Linked DNA regions of Homo sapiens. The protein of the gene in region 1 interacts with the protein of each later gene in a biochemical or structural test. Each region holds a gene or a part of one and is shown on either strand. Other genes may lie near its edges.

Region 1 (3,751 bases):
ATTAGCCACATCTCCAGTGACAGGTGTACTTAATTCAGATTCTCCCAAAGGAACCTAATATCCACCAACTAGCCAGAATTAAAAAGAAAACAAAATTAATCAATAAAATGAGCAGTTAATGATAAATAAAAGTAACTTACCTACTTCAGTGAGTTGATGTCTTTCTAATGTTAAATTCTTTGGATCCTTAATAAAATGAAAGGGTTGTATTTTTATTCCTTCAATTTGAGGGAATAATAAAGCAAAACCAGATTCTCCAATTTCTATTTCCTGAGGTCGATTGCTACCTGATCCCATTGGAGTCACTAGAGAAAAAGTTAAACAGTTTCACCAATAGAGTCAGTAAAAACTAGATAACTACAGTTTAGGTCACTAAGATAATCATTAAGCTAACAAGCCACTATCTGAGTAAAAGTTTTTCAGCTTTGACAGTTTTAGGGTGTAGTGTCATGATGTTTGCCATTTAACTTTCAAATGGTTCAGAAAGAAATTTTTTATAAGCAAAGTGAGAAAAAATAAATGTTGCAAAATTTTTTCAACTGCTAAACTAGATAAAGGGTATATGGGTATTTATCATGCTGTTCTATTATTCTTTCAACTTCTCCATATTTTTCAAATTAAAAAGTTGGGGGGGTAGTAAATACACTTTCACAGCAATTCCAATTTTTAAAAGTTTACCCTAAAAATATTTGACAATTATATAAAGTATATATATACCCAAGTATTTTATCACATAATTTCAAATAGAAAATAAAAAGAAAAAACCTGAATGTCCCACACTGGTATTCAGATTAAAAGTTACATTGGTATCATAGAATATAGCCATTAAAATGATGACAAATATATATTTATAGACATGGAAATATGTTTGTAATATGCTCTGAATTTTACAGGTAGATATTACAGATTGAACTGTGTCATTCCCTCCCTACTGCCTACCCCAAATTCATGTTTAAGCCCTAACCCCCCATGTGACTATATTTGGAGATAAGGCCTTTAAAGAGATAGTTAAGATTAAATGAGGTCACAAGGGTAGGACCCTAATCCAACAGGACTAGTGTCCTGAGAAGAGGAGGAAGAGACACCAAGCATGCTTATGTATGAAGAAAAGGCCACATGAGAACACAGTGAGAGAGCAGCTGTAAGTAAGCTTCAGAGAGACCATCCCCGATCTTGGACTTCTAGCCTCCCAAACTGTGAGAAAATAAGCTTCCGTTGTTTAAGTCACCCAGTCTGTGGTATTTTGTTATGGTAGCCCTAGTAGACTAACACAGTAGGTTACAAGTCTACAGAAAATTGTATTCTGGTTTTTTATATTTACATACATATATAAATAGAGGTTAACATCATAAGAGTGGTTAACTCTGTGGTGCTTAAAGGTGCTTTTGCTTATCTGAATCTTCTAATTTTTTTTTTCTAAAAATAACTATTACTAGTATAAAAAAAGAAATAAACTTTTTTTTTTTTTTTTTTTTTTTTGGAGACAGAGTCTTACTCTGTCACCCAGGCTGGAGCGAAGTGGTGCAACCTCTGCCTCCCGGTTTCCAGCAATTCTCCTGCCTCAGCCTCCCAAGTAGCTGGAATTACAGGCATGAGCCACCATGCCCAGCTAATTTTAGCTTTTTTTTTTTTTTTGAGACAGAGTCTTGCTCTATCATCCAGGATGGAGTGCAATGGCGTGATCTCGGCTCACTGCAACCTCTGCCTCCCGGGCTCAAGCAATTCTCCTGCCTTAGCCTCCTGAGCAGCTGGGATTACAGGTGCCCGCCATCATGCCTGGCTAATTTTTGTATTTTTAGTAGAGATGGGGTTTCACCACGTCGGCCAGGCTGCTCTTGAACTCCTGACCTCATGATCCACCCACCTCGGCCTCCCAAAGTGCTGGGACCACAGACGTGAGCCACTGCGCCTGGCCAATTTTTACATTTTTTAGTAGAGATGGGGTTTTGCCATGTTGGCCAGGCTGGTCTCCAACTCCTGACTTCAAGTGATCCGCCTGCCTCGGCCTCCTAAAGTGCTGGGATTACAGGTGTCAGCCACCACGCCAGGCCAAAAAGAAATAAACTCTTTTTTTTAAAAAAATGTTAAGCCCTTTAGAAACCACAGCTAGAGCAACTGAACAAATAATATTCATTTGTAAACATGTAAAATTCTTTTTACCTCACTGTATAAGACTCAAATTCAGATCAAAAATCTTTCAGTGAAGATTAAAAATGACAATTCTCAGTAGAGTACTACTGAGTTGGAACAAAAAAACATAACAGCAGCCAGGTGCAGTGGCTCATGCCTGTAATCCCAGCACTTTGGGAGGCTGAGGCGGTGGATCACCTGAGGTCAGGAATTTGAGACCAGCCTGGCCAACATGGTGAAACCCGGTTTCTACTAAAAATACAAAAATTAGCCAGGTGTGGTGGTGGCGGGCGCCTGTGATCCCAGCTACTTGGGAGGCTGAGGCAGGAGAATTGCTTGAATCCAGGAGGCAGAAGTCGCAGTGAGTAGAGATCACGCCATTGCACTCCAACCTTGGTGACAAGAGTGAAACTCCATCTCAAAAACAATACATAAATGACAGCTAACATTTACTTACTGCTTTGTGTATCTCTATTGTAAATGCTTTACAAGTGTTAACTCATTTAATTCTCACAACCCTCCAAGGAAGGTACTACTGTCATCATCCCCACTTCCTTGATGAGGACAGTGAAGCCCCATGAAGTTAGGTAACTTGCTCAAAGTCATACAGATACTAAGCGGTACAGCCGGCATTCGAATCCAGGTATCTAACCATTGCACCATTACTGCCTCAACAGAATCTCTCCTCCCCCAGTTAACTACAGAAAAGAATCAAAAATAATAAAAACCAGCAAAAATTCACCAGCAGCAATCAAGCATGGAAAGGGGCACAACCTCATGCTGTAAACATTGAAGAGTGGTACCAAAGCAGAGAAACAGAAGTCTCCTAGTAAGGCCCAGCTTTGCTCCTAATCCCAGCCCCATCTCACCCCTACCCACCAAACACAATACTGCTTGAACTGACAAAACTCTGAAAATGCCCACAAATACTTCCTAATTTGGAGGAAGGCAGAATGAGATCATTCCCCTCTTATGAATGACTACTGGATATTTATACAGGTAACCTTGAGATGAGAAGTACAATAACTTAATAAACATTAATATAAGGCAAATATAATGCCATGGTAAATATGACTGACTTTATTGTATTTTAGATGGACAGAAATAGAAATGTGGTTCTAAGCTAAAAATAACTCACCAATCCAAAGGACCCCACATTAATGCAAGGAAGAAATCATCAAGTTGCTAATTTATCTCACCTACAATTCCTGGGGTCACAATCCCAAGGACTTGGCATTGTTTGGGGAATAGCTTCTCAAGGGCAAGTGCTGTTTCCATACTAGTTCTTTTCCTTGCTGTAAAAATACAGTAGCAAAATGATAAATATCATCCATTTAAAGTCAAATCTGAGAATGAAAAAGTAAAAAAGCAAATACTGGAAATATTTAAGTCATTTAACACGAGAATGCTCTAAATAAAGGTCTAAAAGCATTGATTAAAACAAACACTTTACCTGTTTTGGTCCTGGCTTTTAAATTATAAATCTGATCTTTTGCACCACTAGTCTGCCTTTCCCCTCTGTTCATATATTGCTTTTGCCCCAGTGATGTCAAATTTAGCAGTAACAGCTGAATTTTAGACTTGCTATTGTACCTTTCTGTTCAGCTGATATTGCAGTATA
Region 2 (3,751 bases), on another chromosome or scaffold:
GGCCCGAAAACTCAATATTTTTTAATGTCAATTATGCCCCCTCGGCTGGGCACAGTGGCAGGAGGATTGCTTAAACCCAGGAGTTCAAGGCTGCAGTGAGTTATTGTACCACTGCAAGAGCAAGACCCTGTCTCTTAAAAACAAAAAAACAAGAGAACAAAAAATAGTTGGCTGGGCGTGGTGGCTCTTGCCTGTAATCCCAGCACTTTTGGAGGCCAAAGCAAGTGGATCACTTGAGATCAGGAGTTCAGGAGTTTGAGACCAGACTGACTAACATAGTAAAATCCCGTCTCCATTAAAAAAACAAAAATTGGCCGGGCGTGGTGGGTCACGCCTGTAATCCCAGCACTTTGGGAGGCTGAGGTGGGAAGATCACAAGGTCAGGAGATCGAGACCATCCTGGCTAACATGGTGAAACCCTGTCTCTACTAAAAATACAAAAAATTAGCCGGGCATGGTGGCGGGCACCTGTAGTCCCAGCTACTCGGGAGGCTGAGGCAGGAGAATGGCATGAACCCGGGAGGCGGAGTTTGCAGTGAGCCAAGATCATGCCACTGCACTCCAGCCTGGGTGACAGAGCAAGACTCTGTCTCAAACAAACAAACAAAAAAATTAGCCAGGAGTAGTGGCATTTGCCTGTAGTCCCAGCTACTAGGGAGGCTGAGGCAGAAAAATCGCTTGAACCTGGAAGGCAAAGGTTGCAGTAAGCCGAGAATGTTCCACTGCACTCCAGCCTGGGCGACAGAGTGAGACTCTGTCTCAAAAAAAAAACAACAACCAAAAATCCCAAAAAACCATGCCAGGCCTGAAGTCTCAATATTTTTATGAATAAATGTCAATTATGCCCCCTTGGCAGGATGCAGTGGCTCATACCTGTAATCCCAGCACTTTAGGTGGGCGGACTGCTTGAGCTCAGGAATTTAAGACCAGCCTGGGCAACACGTTGAAACCCTATCTCTACCAAAAATACAAAAATTAGCCGTGCAGGTGGCAGGCGCCTGTAGTGGTAATTCTACAGTAAACAGTATGGTGCTTCCTCAAAAAATTGAACATAGAATCATCCTATGATCTACCGATTCCATTCCTACATGTAGACCCTGTCTCTCAACAACAAAACCCAGAATACAAAAAACCCACTATCAAAAATAAGATATATTTTGGAGGTTGTAAACAGTTAGTCCTCTTAGTTGCAAGTGATAGAACCTCAATTTGTACTACCTTAGTAGGCACAAGGTGGAGGTGTTGAGATTTACTAGCTCATGGAATCCATGAAGAAATGAACAAACCATGGTAAGGGGAGGAATATGGAGCTTCAGGAACTACTGGAACCAGAGATTTGACAGCTTCCCAGACTCTTAGTCTCTCACCTCTGCTGCTTTCTGCACGTCGGCTTCTTTTTCACACAGGCGAGTTGGTTCCATATGGAACCAACTGACACGTGGCTGCTGACAGCTCGTATGTTTTACATTTTATGGCTTCCACACTGAAGGGGAATTTTCTTTCTCAGTTTCAGTTAAAAAAATTCTGGGTAAGGACTCTGGCCCATCTTGGCCCAGGACCAGTGGCCAGGGTATGAGGTCACTGAAGATAACAGTGTGCAATAGTCAGAAGTATTTACATAAACATGAAAAAGAAACAGAATGAGATCTGTAACACAGTATCAATTAGGTACATTTAAAACACATACATACATAAAACATTACATATTATTCAAAGATACATGTATATTCAAAGACATATATCAAACACATTAGAGTGAATACCTAAGGAGGGAGGAAAGGAACATTAGTGGGAACTGGAATGAAGAGAAAAGATAAAATGAGAAAGGGCTTGTTAATGACAGTGTGAATAAACGAGTATGACTGGCTCAATTCTCTGCACCTGAGGGGAAAATAGCAAAATAAAGGAGTGACACAGGAAAGAAAACAAAGAAAAGAAAAAAGTACTTTTGAGTGGGAGTAAGGGGCATTTTCCAAGTGAAAATAAAGGGGAGAATGCTGGGGAGATGATTCCATACATGTTCATTATAGGAACAGAAGAGACATATCCTGATAGTGGATTGAATGGGGGAGAGAAGTGTGAAGAATAAATCCTGGGCCAGGCCTGGTGGCTCACACCTGTAATCCCAACACTTTGGAAGGCCAAGGTGGGAAGATTGCCAGAGGCAAGGAGTTTGAGACCAGCCTGGGCAACACAGGGAAACCCTGCCTCTACAAATTATTATTATTATTATTATTTTGAGATGGAGTTTCGCTCTTGTTGCCCAGGCTGGAGTGCAATGGGGCAATCTCAGCTCACTGCAACCTCCGCCTCCCGGATTCAAGCGATTCTCCTGCCTCAGCCTCCCAAGTAGCTGGGATTACAGGCATGTAGCACCACACCTGGCTAATGTTTTGTATTTAGTAGGGACAGGGTTTCACCATGTTGGTCAGGCTGGTCTCGAACTCCTGACCTCAGATGATCCACCTGCCTCAGCCTCCCAAAGTGCTGGGATTACAGGTATGAGCCACCACACCCGGCCAATATTTTTATTTTTTTGAGATGGAGTCTCACTCTGTCACCAGGCTGGAGTGCAGTGGTGCGATCTTGGCTCACTGCAACCTCTGCCTCTTGGGTTCAAGTGATTCTCCTACCTCAGCCTCCCAAGTAGCTGAGATTACAGGAGCGTGCCACCATGCCCAGCTAATTGGCCAGGATAGTCTTGATCTCTTGACCTTGTGATCCACCCACCTCGGCCTCCCAAAGTACTGGGATTACAGGTGTGAGCCACCGTGCCCAGCCAAAAATTTTTCTTTAAAAAGAGTAACTCCTGGGTTTTGACTTAAATGGTGGTACAATTTGTTGAGATTTAAAACAGGAGAAGAAATAAGTATTTGACAGGAAAATCAGATTTGATTAGCTAAGTTTGAATTGTTTATGAAACATCCAAGAGGATGTCCCTTTTTTAAAAATTATTTTTTGCCAGAAATGTGTGTATATTAGTATCTGCTTTATTTCTGAAGAATGAGCTTTTCAATCTATTTAAAGTACAGCTCTTTTTCCCTTATTTCTGATTGTTTACTCTGCCATTTTCCTTTAATTGTCTTCTATATTTGTTGAATGCTTAGCTTACTAATTTTCACTTTAAAAAGAAAGCATATAAGGTTACTTATAGGATTTTTCCTCTGAGAAGTGCTTTAATATCATGGATTCCATTATGCAATATTTTCATTATTATAATTTCTAAATAATCCAAGATTTTAGTCTTGTTTTCTTTTTTGACCCATGAATTATTTAAAATTGGTGGTTTTTTTGTTGTTTTTTTTTTTTAAAAAGACATTTATTCAGTGTCACGATCAGACTATTACATTTAGCAATCAACAGCTTGGGTGCAAAAAAAAAAAATACATTAAAACCCTTTGTTGGAATGCTTTACACTTTCCACAGAACAGAAACTAAAACAACCTGTTATACAACTAGTCACAAATACAGTCTTCGAGTTTTTTGCCCATACACATGAGTATTTGTCTAAAACATATCTTCTTTGTAGCAGCTAGGCCCTGCCACCACTGTGCTTGGCTTAGTTCACAAATCTGTTGTAACCTGTAGCTTCCCTGTCACTTCGCTGGCTCTCCTCTCATGCTAAGCTTTGTTGCCTAATTAAAATCTTCCGCCACTGCCATAGCTACTGCTGCTACTGGAACCGCCATAGCCACCTTGGTTTCGTGGTTTGGTAAAGTATTGGCCTGCACCACCATAGGGGCCAGAGCTT

What was found. The genes of interacting proteins can lie anywhere in the genome.
Region 2: the proteins of FBXO22 (region 1) and SRR form a complex in vitro, tested with the Homo sapiens proteins (one study listed by BioGRID).

What each region holds. Positions count from the first base shown.
Region 1 is NC_000015.10:75,913,784-75,917,534, reverse strand, and holds part of FBXO22 (F-box only protein 22), read right to left. Parts: intron 3,426-3,751; coding exon 3,330-3,425; intron 306-3,329; coding exon 141-305; intron 1-140. UniProt on the Homo sapiens protein: Substrate-recognition component of the SCF (SKP1-CUL1-F-box protein)-type E3 ubiquitin ligase complex that is implicated in the control of various cellular processes such as cell cycle control, transcriptional regulation, DNA damage repair, and apoptosis.
Region 2 is NC_000017.11:2,307,607-2,311,357, reverse strand, and holds part of SRR (serine racemase), read right to left. Parts: exon of another isoform or gene 1,368-3,751; intron 1-1,367. UniProt on the Homo sapiens protein: Catalyzes the synthesis of D-serine from L-serine. D-serine is a key coagonist with glutamate at NMDA receptors. Has dehydratase activity towards both L-serine and D-serine.